Regions from separate parts of the Homo sapiens genome. Here regions 1 and 2 are each linked to region 3. The links come from fine-mapping of genetic effects on gene expression. A gene starts in region 3. Each other region holds a variant in brackets. All regions are shown on one strand. Distances are between the middles of the regions. Region 1 overlaps PDE6C (phosphodiesterase 6C). Region 2 has its middle 25 kb from the start of FRA10AC1. Region 3 holds the start of FRA10AC1 (FRA10A associated CGG repeat 1).

Evidence for each region. PIP is the estimated chance that this variant, and not a neighbour inherited with it, causes the effect.
Region 1: its variant is fine-mapped to the expression of FRA10AC1 in whole blood (TOPMed, PIP above 0.99).
Region 2: its variant is fine-mapped to the expression of FRA10AC1 in skeletal muscle (GTEx, PIP above 0.99). The same link has a PIP of 0.9 or more in tibial artery, tibial nerve and whole blood.

What each region holds. Positions count from the first base shown.
Region 1 is chr10:93,638,053-93,646,052 of GRCh38, forward strand. It overlaps PDE6C (phosphodiesterase 6C), which reads left to right. Exons shown (of 22, transcript NM_006204.4): 12 at 2,018-2,164; 13 at 2,398-2,505; 14 at 2,868-2,977; 15 at 7,908-7,995. Among named protein-coding and RNA genes, the nearest start is that of PDE6C, 30 kb to the left of the region's middle. The variant C/T (reference allele first, on the strand shown) is at 4,653.
Region 2 is chr10:93,723,604-93,731,886 of GRCh38, forward strand. No RefSeq gene overlaps it. Among named protein-coding and RNA genes, the nearest start is that of FRA10AC1, 25 kb to the left of the region's middle. The variant C/T (reference allele first, on the strand shown) is at 4,363.
Region 3 is chr10:93,699,067-93,707,349 of GRCh38, forward strand. FRA10AC1 (FRA10A associated CGG repeat 1) reads right to left here and starts at 3,526. Exons shown (of 14, transcript NM_145246.5): 1 at 3,309-3,526; 2 at 964-1,040. The coding sequence starts at 1,040. RefSeq lists an enhancer at 3,515-3,814.

The sequences.
Region 1 (8,000 bases), 61 kb before region 3:
TCCATGAAATCCTGGGATATTTACGAAGACCCCAAGACCTTGAATTTCAGAGGATTGAATTCCTTCTGATTGAAATGGAAATATCACACTTAATTTCCTTACTAACTGCTATAACCTGTTTTCCACCATCTCTTTCCGATCTGTGATGTGAGCATTCTTTCTAAACTAAGACACATCGACTATCTCACCTTCTCCCTTTCCATCTTTTGTGGGCTCTGTCCTCCCACCCAGGGCCTTTGCTCTGCTACCATAAGACTGTTGGTCTTTGACCCTTTTTTGGGGCTTACTTCCCACCCCCGTGTTTTCATGTCATCTGAGGTTCCCTTTTCTCCCATTTTGCTTGGCTCCACCTTTGGCACCATCCTCTCAGCCTGGCCCAGAAGACCACCCTTTCTTCTCCCCACCTGCCCTCAACAATAGGCATCTTCTTGGAAAACAAAACTTTTATTGACATCCGTGTCACCAGAAATTCTCTAATTTCTTATTTAAAGGAAGAAGGATCTTATGTTGTAGAAGCAATAAAGTGGACAAAGAACCAGTAGACTTCCTAAAAAACCAGCCTATTTTGAATGTAAAATCTACTCAGGGCAAATCCCAAATCATTGTTGCATAAAATTGAGGAACGTAACAAATATTTCAGAGGAGTTCTCCAAAATTATCCTGGCATCATTTCCCAGCTACGTAATTATTTGTCCATCTTCACGTACCTGAGTCTCTCTCCAGGCCTGCACTTTCATGTTACCTCCAGGGAAGGCTCAGCTGATTTTCTGGGTGTAGCAACAGTTCTGTGCAAGAGTGTGAGGGGTCAGCCCAGGCTCAGGGGCTGGGGGAACCAGAAACCGTAATTTTGTTTTAAATAGCTATATACCATTCGGTGTTGAAATCTGTGTAAATAGAGCATGGCTGTCCCCTGAAAAACATTAAACTTACTAAGGGGAGTGACCTCCCTTTCCCTATGTTTGTGTCCTCCTCAGTGCACTAGTAAGGACATACTACACATTCAAATAAATACCCATTGAACTGAATCTCTCCTGCAGATCTGTCTGGTAGGCCCACATAGTTGTTGCTCATTTCTGCCTCTTAGCACTTTCTCACCCACATGGAATCGTCTCTCCGCTTCCTTCTGCCAGCTCAGCTGCATGCATGTCCCTCCAGCATCTCTCCTCCTTTAATTTCCCCACCTGTCCAAGGACATTCAGTTTCTCCCTCGGCATGGAGCACTGGCCATACTCTCTGATTATTCTAAGTGCTTACTTTTCACTCGTATATATTTTATAGCCACTTTAATAAGTTAAGTTCCTTAAGGGCAAGATACATATTTTTATTTCTCAAGTCGCACCAATGCCATGTGTCTACTTGGCTATTTTTTCACATAATCCGAAATCCTAACCAGATGTGAGTTAAATGAAATGTCTGCAAGTATACCTATGTACTGCAGGGCAATCATTGGTTTATCCATCCACTCATTCATTCAACAGGCATTTCCTGAGCACCTTCATGGGACAGGACCTGCAGATTTGGGATATGGCAGCAAATAAGCAGATGATCCCCACCCTCGGGGAGCTCACATTCTAGTGGGAAACTGTCACTGAGCACATAAAGAAAATTCAAGAGAATTGAATTAAGCAGTCGTTTACTGTTTACTGAATATTTCTTGAACAGAAAAAAAGTTGAGTATCAAAAATGAGTAAGGCTTTTGTAACTAAACATTTTATTTTGCATCATTGAAAGAAAAGAGCTACTGGAGTTGGATTTAGAATGGTAACCCATCACTTAGAAAGTCTTTAATATGGCCAAGTCTCAGTTTCATCACCTGTAAAATGGAGATAATCGTGTAGGCCTGCCGTTAGCATAATCTGTGCAAACTGCATCATCCAGTGCCTGGCACATGGTGGTTCAGTGAATCACACATTGTGTTCTTTTATTGTAATTTTGGTTTACACCCAATGTTGGCTATGGGAGTGGAAAGGGAAAACAGATGAATGTAATCTGAAACAACCCATCCTTATTTCAACAGAAAGAGGACTTGCCAGACCCACGCTCAGCAGAACTGTACGAATTCCGCTTCAGTGACTTCCCCCTTACAGAGCACGGATTGATTAAATGTGGAATACGACTGTTTTTTGAAATAAATGTGGTGGAGAAATTCAAAGTACCTGTAGAGGTCAGAGGGTATTTAATTTAAAATACTGTGTGATTCTGTGGCTCTGCTTCACTGATGTTTTCTGTGGTTCAAAAGATGGACTCAGTTTGAATTTTAAATTATTATTAACTTTCTAAATACATCAGCTTAACCCCTATCTACAAGACCAACACATCTTTTTAGATAAGATTGCCACAGACCTTCTAACCTTTAGAATTCTATTCCAAAGTCTGAATGGTGTCATCTTCTTTTAGGTTCTTACCAGATGGATGTACACTGTGAGGAAAGGGTACCGAGCTGTCACTTACCACAATTGGCGGCATGGGTTCAACGTGGGGCAGACCATGTTTACTTTGCTGATGGTAGGTACAGAGGGCTGTAAATCCTTGTAAACCTGCAGATTTCCCATTTGAGCATGATGAGAAATAGGTATGGTCCATCATTTTAGATCAGTAATTTAAAAATTCAGGGCACAAACCCCTCTCCGCTGCAGATGAGTCCCAGTATCCTTGAGCACCGGTGGGATGATCATTCAGACATTCACACACTTACCTTCTTAAAGGAAGGTTCAGTCTTCACCCACAGTACTACAATACTCACAACAAATAAAGTGAACTTGCTCCAGAAACCTAGTGGGCCTATTCTCTATTGCAGGCTGCACTTGGTATAGAGGTATATTAATTCAAATAAATTATAGATATGCATATATATGTTATTTTTTTAGACAGGAAGATTAAAGAAGTACTACACAGATCTCGAAGCCTTTGCCATGCTTGCTGCTGCTTTCTGCCATGATATTGACCACAGAGGCACCAATAATTTGTACCAGATGAAGTAAGTGAACACATGTCCAATGTTGACACGTATTGGTGGACATTGGAAAGTACTTAGGGTGAGAAAAACGCTTCTCCCTATTCCTTGGCCCAGTCAATGCCTCTTTGCCATGTTGGAAATTCCAGGGCTGGATTCTATTCCCTCCCAAGCTTCCGCCTTCACGATAACGTTGCTCTTTCTCCCTAGGTTCTTGCGTCCCCCTTTCCTTTCTGTTTTCATTTCCAGATGTGCCTCTGCCTTCTTCCTATAGGCCTTCAGGCTTTCTTCTCTCAACTTTGTTTAATCAGAGTATTGAATTCCTATATTAAAGTGCATGAATCTGGCTGGGCACAGTGGCTCGCACCTGAAATCCCAGCACTTTGGGAGAGTGAGGCGGGCGGATCAAGTGAGGTCAGTTCAAGACCAACCTGGCCAACATGGTGAAACCCTGTCTCTACTAAAAGTACAAAAATTAGTCGGATGTGGCACACCTGGGATTATAGGCACATGTCTATAGGAGGTAGACGTGTGCCTCTGAGGTAGGAGAAACACTTGAACCCAGGAGGCAGAGGTTGTAGTGAGCCAAGATTGCACTACTGCACTCCAGCTGGAGCGACAAAGAGAGACTCTGTCTCGAAAAAAATTAAAAATAAAAAACAAGTACATAAGGTACATGAATGTTAGGCTTACACTTGTACACTCCTATGGAGCACTCCCCAGCTCAGGCTAGAGAATACTACCCCTGGGCTCACTACCCTTCACCTCCCTGGTCTTTTTGCTTCTGCCAAACTCTCCTTCAGCTGGTCTTCCATCTTAACATCGATGCCATCTTTCTCTCTTGCCCCAAGAAAGGAAGTACAATAAGAAGGGTGCAAGCTCTGGGCTCAGGCAGATTTGGATTCACTGGGTCACAAATTATTTAAACTTTCTAAGCCTCAATTTCCTCATCTGGGAAGTAAGAATTATAGTAATGGTACCCAGCACATAAGGTTGTTGTAAAGATTAAATATGATCATGCATATAAAGCCCTCAACTCATGGTAGGATCTTGGCAGTTAATAAATATTAGGTATGATTGCTGGGTGCGGTGGCTCACGCCTATAATCCCAGCACTTTGGGAGGCTGAGGAGGGCAGATCACGAGGTCAGGAGTTGGACACCAGCCTTGCCAACATGGTGAAACCCCATCTTTACTAGAAATACAAAAATTAGCCGGACATTGTGGCGTGCACCTGCAGTCTCAGCTACTTGAGAGGGTGAGGCAGGATAATTGTTTGAACCCAGGAGGCAGAGGTTGAAGTGAGCTGAGGTCACGCCACTGCACTCCAGCCTGGGTGACAGAGCAAGACTCAGTCTCGGAAAATAAATAAATAAATAAACTTCAGGTATTATTATGGTTACTATTATTGTTGTGATGTCATTGGACTATTCATTCACCAGTATTGCTCATGGCCAGCCCAGTTCCTTGATAATGGGTTTTAAGATGGTCTATCTGCCTTAGCCACACTTCATTCTCATTTCTGACACATGAACTACCCCTCTCCAGAAGTAGTGAAGTGTTGTAGACAGACTGAATGGGCTTTGGAGTCTTGGGTTTGTGGGGACCAACTACTTCTTGGTTGGGGGATCTTGGACAAGTCATTTAATCTATTTGAGATTCAGTTTCTTAGCCATGAGATGTATAAAGTGTTGACCTCT[C/T]AAAGATTGTTGTGAGAATCCAGTGAAATTACATATGTGAAACCTACTTGAGAAAGTGCCTGCTAGGCAGGTTTCACATATATAATTTCATTGAGCGAAAAGCACTTTGTAAGCAGTGACTCCTCATCTTCAGCAATTCTACCTATTATTAGGCTTTGTCTTGAAAAGATGATCTCCATCCAGACTTGAGGCAAGAGACATCTTCATCTCAAAGGTTCCAGCCTACACTGGCCGCTCGCTCCTCCAGAATGCAAGTCCCCTGACAGTCACTGAAGTCCTCGTCCTCCTTCTTGATCAGTAGTATACTAGCCAATTCAGTTCCAGAGAAACAAATTGAGCATCTATTGTGTGCTAGTAAGGACTTGATACCTACTGCCTCATTTAACCTTCACAGCACAGTGAAGGGAGGTGCCATATAGGAGGTACTAGTATCCCCCACTTTAACTGATGAGCTCAAAAGATGAAGTTAAACCTTCCCTAGGTTATAGGAAGTAGCAGGATTGAAGTTGCCATCTTGCCTCCAGGTTTGCAGGAAAGATGCATGCAGCCACACCCTGCCCTCTGCATTGGCCTGGTTTTCTTTCATCATTCCTCCTCTGTAAACTCAACTGTATGGGCATGTGGTGATGGAAGGGCTTCCTGACTGCAGACTGTCAGTGTGTGTGAATGTCTGTGTGTGTATATAAATAATATATATATTTTTTGGAGACAGGGTCTTACCCTGTCACCCAGGGACTGCAGTGGCATGATCACAGCTCACTGCAGCCTTGACCTCTGGGGCCCAAGCAATCCTCTCACCTCAGCCTCCCAAGTAGCTGGGACTACAGGTGTATGCTACCATGCCTGGCTAACTTTTAAATTGTTTTTGTAGAGACAGGGCCTCCCTATGTTGCCCAGGCTGGTGTTGAACTCCTGGGCTCAAGCAATCCTCCTGCCTCAGCCTCCCAAGGTGCTGGGATTACAGGCCTGAGCTACTGTATGTGGCCAACTAATTCTTTTTTTTTTTTTTCACTAAATCATTTGTGAGTCAGCTGCAATACTAGATTTCATTCCTAAATATTGCAGCATATATTTATTAAGAATTAGGAGGACATTCACCTACATAAACACAATACAATGATCACCCTCAGTATTGGTACAATAATATTACCTAATATAAAGTGTTTTTTAAAAATTTTCCAATTACCACAATAATGTCCTTTATAGCTATTTTTTCCTTCTAATTCAAGATCTAATCAAGGAGCACACTTTGCATTTAGTTGTCAAATATCTTTAATCTCCTTTAATCTGGAGTAGTTGCTCAACCTTTTTGTGTGTTTCAGGATGTTGATGTTTTTGAAGAGTCTAGGCCAACTATTTTGCAGAATATCTTTCAATTTGGATTTAACCACTTGTTTCCTGATTAATAAATTCAGACTAAACATTTTTTTGGCAGGAATACTACATAGATGATGCTGTGTCCTTCTCAATGCATTGTGTCAAGAAGCCCATGATATCAATTTTATTTATGGGCGATGTCCAGAAGATCTCTTTATGTAAAGGAACATTTTCTCCTTTGCAATTAATAAGTAATACGTGAAACGTTAGTTTGAGATCAGATTAATATCTAGCTTCCCAATAACATTTTTTAACTAATGTTTTTAAACCTAAAGGAATTAAAGATACCACTCCTTTCTGACTAGAATTGAGCTTTTTCATTTTTAAAAATATACATTTTAAATTGCTACATAATAGATATACATACTTTTGGGGTACATGATATTTTGATACATTCATATGATGTGCAATAGTCAAATCAGGATAATTGAGATATCCATCACCTTGAACATTTATGATTTCTTTATGCTGGGAATATTCAAATTATTCTTTACTAGCTATTTTGAAATAACAATGGATTGTTGTTTGCTATAGTTACTCTGTTAATTTATTGAACAGTAGGTCTTATTTCTTCTACCTACCTGTATATTTGTACCCATTAATCAACCTGTCTTCATCCTTCCCACCTCCCTACCCTTCCTGGCCTCTGATAACCACCAAACTACTCTCTATCTTCAAATAAAGAAAATGTGGTGCGTGTATATATATATATATAGTATATATATAGTATGTATATAGTACTATATATATACTATATATAGTACATATATATAGTGTATATATATAGTACATATACAGTATATTTATATAGTATATATAGTATATATACACTATATCGATATAGTATATATATAATGGAATATTATTCAGCCACCAAAATAATGAAATCTTGTCATTTGCAGCAATATGGATGGAACTGGAGATTATTTTGTTAAGTGAAATAAGCCAGGCACAGAGAGTCAAATATCACATGTTCTCACTCATATATGGAGGCTTCAAAAGTGGATCTCAGAAGATAGAAAGCAGTTTGGTGGTTATAGAAACTGGGATTTACTCATTTTTTTAAAAATCTCTAATGCCAACACAGAGTAGTTGTTTAAATATGTGTTAAAATTATGATCGATTGTAATATTGATCAGATATGGCCTAATTATTCCCCAACTAAAGTATTTGCTTTCCCTGACCTGCCAGTAACCTGGCAATGACCTCTCCCAGCCTAAAGTTTTGTTCTCCATGAAATAAATAAAGCTTCTCTACTAAGGCTACCAGCCATGTTTTTTATTTCTTCTTTCTTTAAAATTATTTATTCTATATTTTCATGAGAGTCTTCACATAATCTCTAGACCTTTGACATCAGCCTCTTTTACCCTGAAGGCATTGAAGAAAAACAGGGTACAAAAGACTGGGGCCCCTACTTATATAAAGCTGTGATCTAATTGTTAATAAATGGGAAGGAACAGGGAGATACATTTATCTCACTGTCTTGGGGGAGGAGAGAAATGTTACCTTATAGTGCTTTTCATCTTGGTTCTATGCAGATAACCTATGGGCCTCCACATGTTTGCTATATGTTTTATAAGTCATAGTCCACCGCCATAAGCCCCAGGGAACTTAAAGAATTTAGATACAAGGAGCTGAACTCCTTAGTTTAAACAATTAAATCATTTATGCATTCAACAAATTAAGGTTTTTTTTTTCCAAAAGAGCATATTCTCATCTTCTAAATCTAGAAAATCTTTTCCAATATGTTATTTTTGACCACTTCACAGATAATTGAGTGAGGAGGGAGAAGAGAGACATTAAGAAAAATCCTGAATTGTATGAACCTATGTGTAATTTTTAAACAGCTAGAATCATGGCATGTTGTTTTCCTTCTAGATCCACGTCTCCATTAGCAAGACTTCATGGTTCTTCTATTTTGGAGAGGCACCACCTGGAGTACAGTAAGACTCTGTTGCAGGATGAGGTACG
Region 2 (8,283 bases), 25 kb after region 3:
AGATATCCCCATTTGTGACACTTATAAACCTACAGACACTACGCTCAGTGAAATAAGCCAGACACAGAAAGAAAAATATGGCATGATCTCACTTGTATGTAGGATATTTAAAAAGTCCAATACATAGAAATAGAGAGTAGAACGGTCGTTACTAGGGGCAGAGATTGGGAGAAAATGGAGACATGTAGGTCAAAGGGTATAAACTTGCTGTTAGGTAGGAGGAATAAGTCTAGAGATCTAAAGGACTGCATGAGGACTAGAGTTTAATAATATTGTTTTGTATGCTAAAAATTTGTTAATATAGATTTTAGAAGCTTCTGCCACAAATACACACAAAAAGGTAACCATGCAAGGTGGTGGATGTGTAAATTTGCCTGACTGCAGTAATCATTTCACTAGCTCTATGTATATCAAAACACCATGTTGTATACTTTAAATATATGTAATCATAATAAATAAATAAGTAAATAAACAAAAGAGATGAGTTGTACCAGGTAACAAGGACTCATAATAAATCACTGCCTAGGGAAGCACCATGGTGAAGGGAGTGTTTGAGGAAGGACAATGATGTGTAAACTGGACAGGAACAGTCTGAAGACTGGATATTGTTAGAGCATCAGCAGCAGCCTATGGACATGTGGTTAATTAGAGCCTGGACCAGGTTGCTGGCTGTGAAATTAGACAGGAAAGAACCACAGAGAAAAATGACATTCCTCACTGTCACATCACACTCTCTCCCATTTCCTTTTCAGGTTCTTTAGAACTTCTTTCATTTACCTTAAAGGCTTATTTGCAGACACAGCTCAGCACAAACTCTAACTAGCCTGTAAATCATATATATATATATTTTGGCTAGGCCATGCTTCTACATTCTTAAAAGCCAATGCTACAGTGGGAATGAAAAGGAATCAGACCCAGTATAAATTGTGAATGGCTCTGAACTTAAGGCTTTCTACAAATGATGAAGTATTTAAATAGGAAGTTAAGAAAACCGAGAGGCCCAAGAGTGTCTCATCCAGTAGTACCATTCTTTCTTCCCTACACCTCCTGGCACCTTGGATACTCCCTCAAGCCTTCAGTTTCCTTTGCTCCCTATGGGAAAGCCACTGGATTCATTCAGGACAAGATGCGAGGCATCACACTCAGACTATGAAGACTGAAAGGAAACTTGGAGTAACCCAGCCTAAGCACTCAGGAACCCAGAAACACAAATGGCTGAAGGTGAAAACAAGACTGTAACCCACATTTCCCAATGCCCTCTGGGAGCACGATTTTTCTCCTTTCCTTTTCCTGAAATGCAATCTGAAACAAAATTCTAAAATAAAAATATTTTTTTCTGCTCAAAACTGTGCACATGCGTATTCTCTCTCTCTCTCTCTCTCTAGAATAGAGTCAATAGGAGATAAAACCTTCAGAATTCAAATGTCACCTTAAATACAGTGATTAAATAGCATTCTCTAAGCAGAATTACTTTAAAAGGGAGAAAGATGAAACATTTTTATTTTCTTTATGTTAGATCTGCCATCAAAAGTAATTGATAGACGTGTGCTGTTTTTTTTTTAGCATATCATTGTTACTTCCCTCAAAACTGTTATGTTACTGCTTGTACTCATTTTATTCTCCTTTCAGGACTAAATCTGCTGAAAGAAAAAGACTACATCTTGTTTATCTTTGCATTCCTCATGGGTCCTTGTATTGTTTTTTGCACATTGTTCTATATAAGGTTTTGGCACAGCGCTTACTCTTCTTAAAAATTGGTGGAATAACAGGGCATGAAATGACTTTCATCCAATATTTTTGCAACTTTTACCTTCACTACTTAAAAGAAAAAAGTCAAATAGCAAAATGAATATGCCATGTCAATTGGAGAATTTAACAATCTGTGTTTTAAAAGAAAACAGCTTAGGAAGCTCTGGTCTCAGACATGCTATTCTGAAATCAAAATCACATAGATGAGGCTGAAGAGTTGAATCGTCTTCTGAATCAAATTAAAAATTCAACCCATAGTAATTTTGGCAGAATGAAAACGTCAAATTGCATTTCAGCCAATTTCTCTTCCTTTTCTATAGTCGATGAGTTGTTTTGGGGCACAAGAAAAAATTTCAAGGATTGTGTTTATTTACAATATTTTCAGGAAAAAAAATGCCTGCTTGCTTTCCTGTAAAAGTGAGAGGAGCAGAGAAGCTTCCTAGACTGTTCTCAGATGCTTCAGCTAAAAAGTAAAATAACAGTGCCAATAATTGAAAATAAGGAGAAAAATTATGCCAAACACTTGGCACCAGCTGCAGCAATTAAGTAAGCACCTGCTTTATGCTTCATCTGCCACCATCCCCTCCCTCTTCATTTAGGCTGGTTTCTGGTTTTTTTGAGAATATATGCACCTCAGTGTACAAGCTCGCAGAGCTGTCTTTTTCCTTCTTTTTATTTCATTCCTTTCCCTTTGGCTATCATTAACTCAGGCATGACAGGAAGATCCAGACAAGGACAAGGTAGTAAAGACACCAATATTTCTAAAATCTAGGGCTTTAGAGAATGTTGGGGCAGATGTAACCATAGTAATCACTGGTATGAGAGCACTGATGTCCTTACTAAACAGCAGGTCACACCATCCCAAGGAGACCTTGCAAATGAAGATGCAGATTAGATGTCTGGAAGCAAGATTTTTATTAGCTTAGTCCTGAACCTTAGCTATGCAACAAAAGCCAGCTCTGCAGAGATTTAGGCTCTCAAAGAGACACCATCAAGGAGTTCGAGACTGTTAGGAGCATAGGGCTTAGCATGAGCATCAAATAAGGTATAAAAGAGGTGCTTTGAAAAGTTGAAAGAATTATGCAAATGTAAGGCAGGTATTAATATTAAAGATGTTTATCATAACCCATCTAAGAGAAACAAAATCATAAGTGTATTCATCCACTGGAAATGAATTTGCACTTTTTGGAATCCTGGGCTACCATTTCCTCTTTTCCCTTTTATCCTGTCTATAAAAGCTGGCTAATGATGCACCTACCTCAGAGGCAACTGTGAGGCTTAAATGAGATTATGTGCATGAAGCACCTTGCTCCATGCCTTGTATAGAAAAGATACTTAATAAATGTGAATTGCATTTCAAGGGGAAAATCAAGTACATTATCCTGAGAATTCTTCATACTTGCAGTTCATCAATAGATGCTTCACATTAAATTACATGTTTCCAGGAGAGAAAAATGGAGTGGTCACCCTCAACAGTACACAATCAGTGGAGCTGGCTGCTTCTCACATGGAGAAAACAGATGTGAAACAAAGGCATCCATCCTTCAATTTGTAGGTGTCAAAGTAGCAATTCCCCTCTTCTCATACTGGTAACTACTGCTTTGTTCTTCTGCAGAAAACATTTTAAAGCTGCTTTTGAATTCCCTCTATCATAGCCAGATACCAGCAAAAGAGAGACTCTGAAAACAGAGCAAGAGCTTCTAGGTACAGACCAGAAGCTCCTTGAGGTTAGGGACCATTCTACCTGGTTCCCTGCCACACTCCAGCACTTTCAAGAGTGCCCAGCAGATGACAAGCCCTTAGTATGCACTTACTGAATCATTTCAGTACATCAGAAATTTGAGGAAGTAAATGAGACACAAAATTAAAGGTGCTTTATTTCATCAATTTGATTGGCATGTCCTGCTTCATCTACCTTTGGTGCAAAATAATGTCTCATTTGTTTTAGTGCTTGATGTGGTTTGGATGTGTCCCCACCAAAATCTCATCTTGAATTGTAGCTCCCAAAATTTCCAGGTGTTGTGGAAGGGACCCTGTGGGAGACAATTAAATCATGGGGGCGATTTCCCCCATACTGTTCTCATGGTAGTGAATAAGTGCCACAAGATCTGACGGTTTTGTAAGGGGAAACCCCTTTCACTTGGCTCTCATTCTGTGTCTTGCCTGCTGCCATGTAAGACGTGCCTTTTGCCTTCCACCATGATTGTGAGGGCTCCCTAGACATGTGGAACTATGAGTCCATTAAACCTCTTTTTCTTTATAAATTACCCAGTCTCGGGTATGTCTTTATCAGTAGCGTGAAAACAGACTAATATGGTGCTCAAACCATAATAACTGAAGTTCATCTTATTGATCAGGGGAACCTATCCTACTCCTATAGGGTACTTTTCCCATGAAGTACCCTGATAGAAGTACCAGGAGCAGATAGTCCAAAGTGATTAACTTATTCATTGTTAATTAGTTAATATTACCTCATAGAAGAAACCAGAAAGTCTGGTGAGTCCACCAAAGGGCTCTGTTGTCTGCTGTTTGTGTTGCTTTACATCAGTGCAAAAACCATAAAGTTCAGTTATCTAGAATGAGACCCTATTTGTTTTAATATTACTACAGTAT[C/T]AAGACAGATAACTATTGACAGTCCTAAAAGATTCTTAGAGATTTTTAGGTGATAAATGGTCTCTCTCTCTCTCTGTGTGTGTGTGTCTATCTCTGTCTCTCCCTCCCTCTCTCTTTTTCTCTCTTGCTCCAGGACTGTGCCCACCCTTGGAACAACTGCACTAATCAGGTCTGAGCTTCTGATGTCACAGCACCTGTGGGGTGCCGACCTTCCAGTTTACACACACAGAGCCACTTTGTGCCTAAGGTACATCTATAGTGCCTAGGTGGCTGGATCAACAGATGCAGCATCCACACCCTGAAATTTTCCTAGAACCCTTTTCTTGACTCCACTCTCCGCTGGAGAACCTAGAAACCCTTAGCTTTAGTTTAAGGTGGTAACATTTGAGGAGTTTGGGAAGGGGAAGAGATGAGCATACTAGGAAAGCAAACAGTGTGACCAAAGGCAGAGTAGCAGGAAACTCAGGGTCAGCCACAAGAAACCTTCACTTGTCTGGACACAGAATCCATGCAGGGTGGGGAGCTGGGAGACGTAGAAAGGCAGGGCTATTTACAGATTTTATATTGAGGGCCAAGTGGTGTACAGAGGAGTCAAGATTTAAAGCGGCAATCATTCTTTCCTCACAACGTGTACAAAATGCTTTGAAAGTTCCCCTTTCTACCACATTTTAGACTTGGTGCAGAGAACTAGAACCCACTGTCACCACTTCAGTGTTCTGCAGAGTGGCGGTGGCCCTAGGGTGCCCTACTGAGCTACAGTGGCACATAGGAGTAGACAGTCTTCCAAATCATTAGGGCAGCATCTCCCAGGCTGGCCTATTGCATAACAAGGAAGAATTCTATGATAGGAACAAGCTGAAAGTGTTATAGGAGTGATATGGTTTTGATCTGTGTCCCCACCAAATCTCATGTCATATTGTAATCCCCATTGTTGGAGGTGGTGCCTGATGGGAGGTGATTGGATCATGGTGGCAGAATTCTCATGAATGGGTTAGCAGCATCTCCTCGGTCCTGTTCTTGTGATAGCAGGTGAGTGAGTTATCATGAGATCTGGTTGTTTAAAAGCATGTAGCACCTCTCTCTTCTCTTTCTTGGTCCTGTTCCTGCCATGTTAGAAGCCTGCTCCCACTTTGCATTCTGCCATGAGTAAAAGCTCCATGAGGCCTTCCCTGAAGCAGATGCTGCCATGCTTCTTGTATAGCCTTCAGAACTGTGAGCCAATTTAACCTCTTTTCTTTATAAATTACCCAGTGTCAGGTTTTTCTTTATAGCAGTGTGAGAAATGACTAATACAAGGGGGCCTTGAAAATACACTCAAGATAGTCTATGACAATCAGAGAACTGATAGTGATCATATCATGAGAATTGACTTCCCAAAATCCTATCTATGTTGATTGATAAGGAGTATGTTCATTCACTGATCTGGCCAAGGAGAATGTGACTGGCCACGATTGGCTTAGACTGATCTTGTCATTGGATTTCAACCCTGGCCATAAAATAGAACCACCTGAGTAGCTAAAGAAAATTGCCGACATCTAGGTCCACACCAGTGATTCTAGACTCATTGGGGCTGAGGGAACAATGAGTACAAAGGCCGGGAGTCAAGAGAACATGGTGAGTTTATGTGGATATTGATAGTTCTACATGGCCTGAACACAGCGTAGGGAAATAAATTCATCACCTTAGGCCTCAGGTGACACACTGGGACTACCACTGCTCTGTGAGACAAGGAAGTGGTGGGATAAGATCTAATGCTTTGCACCTAAGTCTAAAATGTGGTAGGTTCCCCTGTAGCCATATCAAAGTAGGTGCTGTTAAACAAGGGAATCTTAAATAAATCTTTGAGAGAGTCTGCAGTGGTTAAGGGTGCATGCTTGCGTGCAGCAAAAGATGAGCTCAGTTCTATCATCTAACACCTGGGGAGCAAGCCAGGGGACCAGACCTGAACCTTTGCGGGGAATCAAGTACTTAAAGAGGTATCACCTTTAGATTACCTTGTCCTCACCCTGTTCCCACTATTGTCTTTCCATCGTAGTGTTGAAAACTATAATGTCTACATATTTCACTGTAATGTCCACAAATTCAAAAAAAAAATGCCCAGGTTTGTAGAACGTGCTCCGTAAATGTGACAGTTTCTGCTCTACTTGCAAAGCTCAATAACTTGTAGTCAGGTTCTTGGGCTCTTCCAAGAACTTACCATGCCAAAAACCTATCCTGATTCTACCATTTACTTGCTATGTGCTATTGGGCAAGTTGCTTTACCTGTCTAAAACTCAGCTTCATCTGTAATATGGGGGTAATGATAAGTACTTAGGTCAGAGACTATGTGTTCCTCACACTTTCTTTTTCCTCCTGGTCATAGTCGTTGTGCACTTTTCCCAACCTTTCTTGCAGCTAGGCAGGCCATGTGATTGCATTCTATCCAATGGAATGTTGGCAGGAGTGATGCATGCTATATCCAGGCCTAGATCTTAAGAACCCTCCCATGGGGTCCCTGCCATGTGAACTTGCTCCCTCTACCCTCATCTGCCAGTGAGATGCAGAAGATCCAGTGAAGAACTTCAAGGTCCTGGGGAGGGTGAGTTTATTCAGGAAGGAACCTGAATCCCTCCCCCGCCTTCTGCCCATACTGTGCCATGGGTAAAAATCAGCCTTTAAAATATCAAGCCACTGAGATTTGAGGGTGTTTGTTATGGCTGTTAGCCTCACCTGACTAATTCAGCAATTCTGAGAATCAAACGAGAACATTTATTTATAATCACGGTGTCAGGCACAGAGTAAATATTTAGTAAGTAACAGCTATTTATCATCATATGATGTCAGCCCTGCTTTAGGTATGTAGACTTTTCCCTTCCCATATCTTCAAATGCTATTTCTTCCCTTTGATCCAGTGACCAAGACAACTCTGGATGTCCAGTGCTGCTTTATCTTTAAGCCTAATCACAACATTAATGCATTGCTTCTCTCTGGACCTTGCTTTTCTAGTAACGTTTCCTCGCAAAAATATGGAGGGTAGAGGGGATGTTTCTATCGAGATGATAATGGTTCTGAAATGAGTCAGAAGCATGAGGCATTTCAACTGGCATCATTCATCACAGCTCCATTTTTGCTTCCCCTGCCTTTCTGTATGAAGTCTACAGAGCTGAGAGTTAAATTAGTTTGAGAGCTGCCTCGGATGAGCAGCACAATCTGCTCCACTGTAGCGAACATTTCATAAAAACTGTTCCTGCCGAATTTTCATGAAACTTCCAAATTTTAATTAGAAACTGGAGAACCAGATGGGTGGCAAAAGGAATTTAAGGTAACAAGGGAGTAAGTGCTCTTACACTAAGGTAAAAATCAATAACCGTGTGACCAAGTGGGCACTTAATTGGCATGATTTGGAAAGTTCTAGCGGTTCTCCCTGTGGCCCTCAAACATCTCCATTACATGACAACAATGCCTAAAATTGTTAATAAAAACCCTTCACAATCACATGTTATTTTACAGTTGAGCCTTGAACAATGCAGGGGTTGGGGTGCTAACCCCTTGCAGAGTCAAAAATCTGTGCATAACTTTTTGTCTTCCCAAAAACTCAATTACTAATAGCCTACTGTTGACCAGAAGACTTATCAATGACATAGTTGATTAGCACATATTTTGTATATTTTCTATATATTGTATTCTTACAATAAAGTGAGCTAGAGAAAAAATGCTATTAAAGAAATCATCAGGAAGAGAAAGTATATTTACTACTCATTAAACGGAAGTAGATTATCATAAAGATCTTCACCCTCATCATCTTCATGTTGAGTAGGCTTAGGAGGAAGAGGAAGAAGAGGGGTTGGTCTTGCTGTCTCATGGGTGGCAGAGGCAGAAAAGATGGAGAAGGTGGAAGAGAAGGTGGAATAACCAGGTACACTCAGTGTAACTTTACAGCAA
Region 3 (8,283 bases):
GAAAGCCAAAAGACTGGACACCCTGCCATAGACTGTCAGCCCTAGTTATAGTGATGAATATAATCCTGGAGCAGAGTATCCAACTAGATTTGCTCAAATTCTATTCTTACAAAGTAGTATTTTTGAATGAAAAATCTAGAAAATGTAAAGCATCAAAAATGTAATTTATTATAATTAGTACTATCCTTTATTGCAGAGACTGAGTATCCTATAAAAATGTTCAGAACCTGTTAGTATGCCTAATATATTGCTCTCAGTGTGAAATAATAAGCCAATTTCTATACATTTGCTTAAAAAAATCAGTCAACAGCCGTGTAAGTTTGGTTAGTATACATCAGTCAACCACTCCTGAGTCAAAGTATAAAACTGAGTTTCTATGCACTGAAAGCTAAGAACAATGCTCCTACGCACAGCAGCTCCACCAAGACGTATCCTGCTTATAACGCACAGGCTTTATGTGCTAAGAGTTTTTGTCTCTTGCAATTCAAAAAAACCTTCCTTGAGTTTCTTCCCGTGACCTTAGTCTGCTCATTCACGTATGCGTAAGAACTGTGCTGCATTATACTTTCATCCTCCATATTAACTTCACTTTGAAGGCAAGTAATGGCAAGAGACCACCATTCAAGCCCCTTCTGAGCTACAACATTTACAAATAAACAGTCCTTGACAGTTGAATGAAAAATATATGTAATGAAAAGGTTTCACTGATTTCTGAAAAGATTCCAGAAATCTGAAACTCTTCTTTCCCTTTCAATAAACCCCTTTGCAGAATTAATTTTTATTTTTCCCACAATTGTTCTCCAATTTTTAATCAATGTATTAGCTTAATGAACAAAAATTCATTCACTAGAGCAATTGTCTTCACATGTAAACAGAATTCAAAAATTTCACTCTTGTTTATTTATACTTCATATTAATCTAGAAAGGATGTGAAAAATAGATCAATAAAAAAAAATTACTTACCTTTTTTTCCTTTTGCTGGATTCTCCACAGCGTTCATCATCACTAAAATCAGAATCATAGCCTCCATGACCATGCATCTGTAAAGGAGTACAAAGTCAGCTATTTAGAATCTATGTTGCCAATTGTCCAGGAAACAATAATTCAAAAATAAGTTATCTTAAACAGCCACAATAGTTTTAAAGGATCATTGTGGGCAGATTCCTATTCACAGGCCATCTAGCCATCTAAAACTTTCATTCGCTTTTAAATAAGAGACATACCTTTCAGGAAATGCATCAACATTTTTCACCCTTAATTATCATTAGGTGAACAAAGAAGGCTACTCTTTGATCTTTTCACTGAAAAACCAGGCCTAAAAGCTGCAGTGACTGCTTACAAGGTTTAGCAATCCTTCACTTTTGATTCAGAGTAGTAATAATCACTGTGTGTTTATCACCAACTTTGTTCTAGACATTGTGTTAAATACTTTACAAACAACACTTCTAATTCTGCAAGTTAGAAAGTTATCTTCATTTAGGAATGAAGTAATCAAAGTTAAGTAAATCTATTTACAAATCCAGTAAGTGGCTAATCTGCTGTACTTGATTCCTGCGCCCACAATTTCAATTACTCCAAATTTCCTCTCTGGAATATGATTTACTATATTCCAGGAGAATTACAGTATTTGTGAACAGTACATCATCAATTGATGAAAATTTTCCTGTAATCTTTTTCAATATATGTAGAGATTTCCATTTTCTTTTGAGTTTCTTTAAGGTAAACCACCTTGCCCTTTGGATTAGTCAGCTTTCTCTTGTTTCATTTTATTTATCCAGTTATTTTTGGAGAGTCTCGCTCTATTGCTCAGGCTGGAGTGCTGTGGCGCCTTGATGGCTCACATCCTCAACCTCCTGGGCTCAATCAATCCTCCCACCTCAGCCTCTCCAAGTAGCTGAGACTACAGGAGTGCATAATCACACCTGGCAAACTTAAAAAAATTTTTTTTTTGTAGATAAGGGGTTTCGCCATGTTGCCCACGCCGGTCTCAAACTCCTGGGCTTGAGCAATCCGTCCACCTCAGCATCCCAAAATGCTGGGACTTCATTTTAGAACTGAAATTCTTAGAAATGCTGGAAGACCTCAGTTGCCACTCAATTGTATTGGAAGAAGCTCCTAGTTCCAGCTTTGCACTGAATTTGGAACACACACTAAGAAGGAAGGATGGACTATTTGATGTCATACATAACTAATTTACATGGCTGGAAGGAACAGTCCAGGTTAAATGATATATCAAATTGTTAAAACTAATATAACGACAGCAAGTGCAGCTGGAAAAAGAGGAAAGAACTCTCTAAACTTCATTGCATTGGATCTAGGGTAAACGACATGTTTCTAGTCCTGGCTACCTTGAATAAGTCATTTCATCTCCCTGGACTTCATCTATTAAATAAGATAGCTACATGAAATAATCTTTAAGTTGTTTAAATCTTTAAATAACCTTTAAAGTCTGTAATTCCATTTTCAAACATAGGTGTGTGGGTATATACCTCTCTTCTCTGCCCCACTAAAATCCTAGATAGGAAGATGCTAGTTAAGGTTGGAGATGAAGGTTTGAAAGCCCGAGTTCCAACTCTACCCTCCCTTACATCTGTTATTGCCTTACACACCTGGATTTTACACCCTTTTTTAGGTCAACTCCAGCTGTCTTACCACATCTGTTCAAGCCATATTGTCCTCTCACTCTTTGTCCTATGTCCTCACGTTCTTTACATCTTGATGGGGGACAGCTGTAGTGTGTTTAGAGATATATTCTAGGATCAGCCTACTAGATTTCACTGCTTGGCTCTGCACTTTCCATTTGTCTTTCTTTGGGCCTGTTCCTTAACCTCTCCAAGCCTCAGTGTCCTCATTTATAAAAAGAGGCTAGTAAGATGGCTGACCTCATACGAATGGAGATTAAAAGAGTTGCCTCATCTAAAGGGTTTTAACGGTGTCTTGTACAGTGAAACCCAGTAAATGTTACATCATCATCATCATCTTTTCCCTCGCCCCAGGACACGACTTCCTATTCTTGCTCCCACTCTCCCATTTCTTTATTCGCTGGCCGCTCCATCCGACCCATACCTATCTTAACTCACTGGTTGAACTAAAAAGCTCTCACTCACTTCAGGCCTACGAATCAACTGACAAGAGCGGGGAGAAACTCAAAAACGGAGATGCCAGGTGTCTCCAGAATCTGTCATCCAAAAAAAAAAAAACCAAACCAAAACAAAAAAAAACCCGACGATCAGCTAGTACTATATGAAAAACAAGTTTTGAGGTCCTTCTCCCTGATGCCAAATATACCCACAGCCCTCCTCACACACCCTTTCCCTTCCTCCCTGTGTGCCAAGTTCGCCCCCGGAGTCGTCGTTTCCTTCTTTCCCGGCAGCTGCAGCGACGACCCACGGCCTGAGAGAGCCGCTGCAGCACAGGTCCCGTGCGCCCTGCCGCACAGCCTCGCCACAACCACCACCGCCGCCGCCGCCGCCGCCGCCGCCCGCAACCCGCCTCTCCCTACGGGTCCCGACTGGGCACCACTTCCGGTCCGACACGGCCACGTGTTACATCTAAATGGCACCGTCCCCCGAGTGCGCCGACCTTGTGCTACAGCCAGAACAGCTCCGGGAAACAAGGGCAGCGGGAGAAACGGCCCGGAAAGGGACGAAGAGGCTTCCAGCTTTCGCCAAGTCGCGGCTCCCAGTTTTTCCCTGGGCCTCCTTCCTTTCCCCTCTAGGGAATCCGGCATCTAGTACCGCTGGCACTGCTTGCTGCTTAGCCCACGCCTCTCATTTGAAAATATATTTTGTTTTACCGTGCCTATCACCTGCCGTCCTCTCTCTAGTAACCTTAGTAACGCCTCCTCGGAGGATCCTCTCAGAGCAGCTCATCAGCGCTTCAGATCAGCCTCTCCCTCCTTCCCCCAGTAAAACAGTTCTCATAATTAGAACAAAAATATCTCTCCATCGTTTCGCCACCCACACAATAGATACCATTCCAAAAGCAGTGCTGATGGCAGAAGAGCTCATCGAATTTGTGAGGAAAGAAAGAATAGGAGGAGAGATTTCTCAGGGTTGAGGATTCTCTGCCGACAAGCGACCTGGCACATGCGAAAAGGGATCCAAAATAGAATCTTAAAAAGAAGAAGAAAAAAGGCAGGAAAAGTTGGATTATTTTAAGCGCCACTAGGTTCTTCCTGTGCTTTGCGTTTTCTACATCACGACGCCCCACTCTTTCCACTCTAGTTGTTTGGTTCATGTCTTGTCTCTCGCTGGCATTAGCAGCTATTCATTTTTTGCTTCCTCCTCAGTACCCAAAACGGTGCCTTGGAAATCACAAGTGCTAATTAAATATTTGTTGAATTGAACTGGCACGCTTCTGGCGTTTACAGTGGGCCCTTTTTAGAGAAAACCTTGGCACTTAATGCACAGTCATTTTACATCTTTTGCCCTAAACAGTAGATAACGATATCCTTATCAGTTCAAGTCTCTAACCCTGACAATAAATTATAGATACATTCTGCTTTATCCATTGCACTGAATGTGATCTTAAAAGGCTATAAGATAAATTAAATTATTGTAAATTAACTTATTCCAAAATGCAATCAGATTATACTTCAATAAAAACTTTTACTAAAAAAAGTGAAAGCAATAGGAAGCCTTACAATTTGACGTTATAGTATATGGAATTATTTTGTCAAGCAGTTTCTTTTTTGGTAAATATATTAAATATATAATTATTTTATTGTTAATAAAACTAAACAGACCTATACCTCATATCCAATTTCCTTTCTATCCATATTTGACATTTATTAGCATTTTTCTACCATCCCTAGCATCTTCTTGTTTGTTGCTTCATTTTACTCTTCCAACAACCCTGTGCTGCTGTGTTATTAGCCTCATTTTACACATAAGGAAGAGAGGCACAGAACCTAAAGCCACAAACCTGGTGAGGGTCGAGAACTGGGTAGTACTTGTGTCTGTCTCTCTATAAGACCCAGTTTCTCTCTCTCTCTTTCTCTCTTTTCTCTCTCTCTCTCTGTCTCTCTCTCCCCCACTTCATGGATTGTGTGGGAAGTAGCTTCTGGTTCCAACATTTCTAAGAATTTCAGATCTGTTGCTACCAGTCCATTCAGGCAAAGATTTCCATTTTTTACTTTGAGACAGCAGTTACTGAAAAAGAGTAAATAGAAAATATATATTAGGCATAGATTGCATGATCTGAACTAGAAATAATACAGGATAGAAAACCCACCTGCTTAGGAAATCTCAAGTTAACAATTATAGCTCAACAACAATAAAAAACACAAACATTTATTCAGTGCCTACTCTGGGCAGGACACTGCCCTAGACATCAGGGTTACAGGTATGTAACAGCAACTCCTTATCCTTGAAGGTTGACTAGTAAGACAGACAATGTGTGGAATAACTACAACAATATATTCTATCATATACCAAGTGTCTAGTACATGCATGAACCTGTTGTTCCTAATTTATAAAATATGTTATTTCAATGGATATGAAAATTTAAATGTGCACCAATGCTATGTAACTCAAAGCAACAAAATACTATATTAAGTATGTGGTCAGGATGAGGGAAGTTGGGTGATGATGGTGGTGATAATACCAAGTAATAATTCTGATATAAACTATGACTGTGCATTCTTTTTTATTCAAGACCGAGTCTCACTCTGTCACCCAGGCTGGAGTGTAGTGGCGTGATCTCAGCTCACTCCAACCCCTGCCTCCTGGGTTCGAGCAATTCTCCTGTCTCAGCCTCCCGAGTAGCTGGGACTAGAGGCGCACACTACGCCCGGCTAATTTTTGTATTTTTTTACTAGAGATGGGGTTTCACCATGTTGGTCAGGCTGGTCTCGAACTCCTGACCTCAGGTGATCCACCCACCTTGGTCTCCCAAAGTGCTGGACTTACAGGCGTAAGCCACCGCGCCCAACAAATGTGCATTCTTTCTTTTCTTTTCTTTTTTTTTTTTTTGAGACAGGGTCTCACTTCATCACCCAGGCTGAAGTATAGTGGTGCCATCTCAGCTCAACCTCCACCTCCCGGGTTCAAGCCATTCTCCTGCTTCAGCCTTCCCAGTAGCTGGGACTACAGGTGTGAGCCACCATGCCTGGCTAATTTTTGTATTTTTAGTAGAGGCAGGGTTTCACCATGTTGGCCAGGCTGGTCTCGAACTCCTGACCTCAAGTGATCCCGCCTTGGCCTCCTAAAGTGCTGGGATTACAGGGGTGAGCCACTGCGCCTGGCTGAATATGCATTCTTCTAATACTGTGTGTCTTTGAGAAGATTGCATTTTCCATGTTCTTTTTATAATATGATGCTGACACTTCTCTAACATAAGCTAATACCTATGGCCACAGCTTTGAATCTGGGCATGTCAGTGACTATAGCAGAAGTAATGCTAAGACACTTCTGATGCTAAGTTGCAAAAGGTGTTAGAGCTTCTGCCTGGGTTTGTCACTCTACTTCTTTAGCTGACATGGAGTGGAGCAGAGATGAAGTAACTTCACTGAGCCTCACCCAGATTGCAGACTAATAATCAGAATAAGTATAATTGTTTCAAGCCACTAAGACTTTGAGGTTGTTTGTTATATACCGATAAATATCCAGAACCATCTGCTGTCTCACTTAACCTCCATAACATTTGATGTTATGGAGCCACGCTGGGCTTTCTTTGTTTCTTCAACATGCATGCCTCTTCAAATTTACCATTTCCTCTACCCGGAATGGTCTTAAACCCTTTCTGTTTGCCTCCCTAACTCCTCTTTATCCTTCAAAACTCAACTTAGGTGAAGGAAAGGCCTTTCATGAGCATCTCTCCCACAGACTAGATAGGATTACTGATAATATGCACATTACTTTCCATTGCACTTAGCTACATACGTAGTAATAATTTAGCCCTGTTTCCCTCACTGAGATGCAAGCTCCACAATGGCAGGAAGCATACCTCTCTTTTTCAGTGTGGAATCCCCAGTGCTCAGCACAGTGCCAGACACATGATAGTTGCTCAGAATATTTATTGAACAAATGAAGTGGGTACTATTATTATCCCTATTTTACAATAAGAAAACAGATTTTTTTAAAAAAATTATATAACACTTCCAGAGTCATGAGTAAGCAAATGGGGCACAAATATAAGTGACTTCAAAGCTCACACCATATATATGTGTGTGTGTGTGTGATATGGTTTGGCTCTGTGTCCCCAGCCAAATCTTATGTTGAATTGTAATCCCCAATGTTAGAGGTGGGGCCTAATGGGAGGTGATTGGATCATGGGGGTGGTTTCTAATGGTTTACCACCATCTCCCTAGTGCTGTCTTGTGATAGAATTTTCAAGAAATCTGGTTGTTTAAAAGTGTGTAACACCTCCCTCTTTGCTCTCTTTCTCCTACTCCTGCCATGTAAGACATGTCTGCTTCCTCTTCACCTTCCACTACGATTGTAAATTTCCTGAAGCCTCCCCAGCCGTGCTTCTTGTGCAGCCTGTAGAACTGCGAGTGAATTAAACCTCTTTTCTTTACAAATTACCCAGTCCCAGGTAGTTCTTTATAGCAATGTGAGTACTAATACTAAATATATACATATATATATACACACACACATATATGTATATATAGAGAGAGATAAGTAGAGAGAGAGTGTTATCTCTCTGTTGCCCAGGCTAGAGTGCAGTGGCACAGTCATGGCTCACTGCAGCCTCAACTCCCAGGCTCAAGCAATCTTCCCACCTCAGCCTGCTTAGTAGCTGGTCCATAGGCTGCTGCCACCACACCTGGCTATTTGAAAAAAGATTTTTGTAGATACAGGGTCTCACTATGTTTCTCAGGCTGGTCTCACACTACTGAGCTCAAGCTATACTCCCACCTCGGCCTTCCAAAGTGCTGGGATTACAGGTGTGAGCCACAGCACCTAGCCCAAAGCTCACGCTATTGACCACCATACATATTGCCTTTCAATAAGGCCCATGGTGGTTTGTGATACTTAAAAGAATTAGAAACTTTTTTTATGGAGGAAAGGTACCACATACATTGAGACAGAGGGATTAGTAAGAGGCAGGAAAGGCTTTGTAGAGGAAGTGGGACTTAAGCTATGACTTAAAGGTAGCTCTTGAGAGGAGAGGAGAGGAGAGGAGAGGAGAGGAGAGGAGGGGGCAGTCAAGGCAAGGGAGTTTCGGTAAAGGATTAGAGGTGGAAATATCCACAGGTTATTTAGAGGAATTTGAGTAGCTCACTTGAGCTGGAGAAGAATTTTTGAAAAGGATTAGTGAAAGAAAGATCAGAAA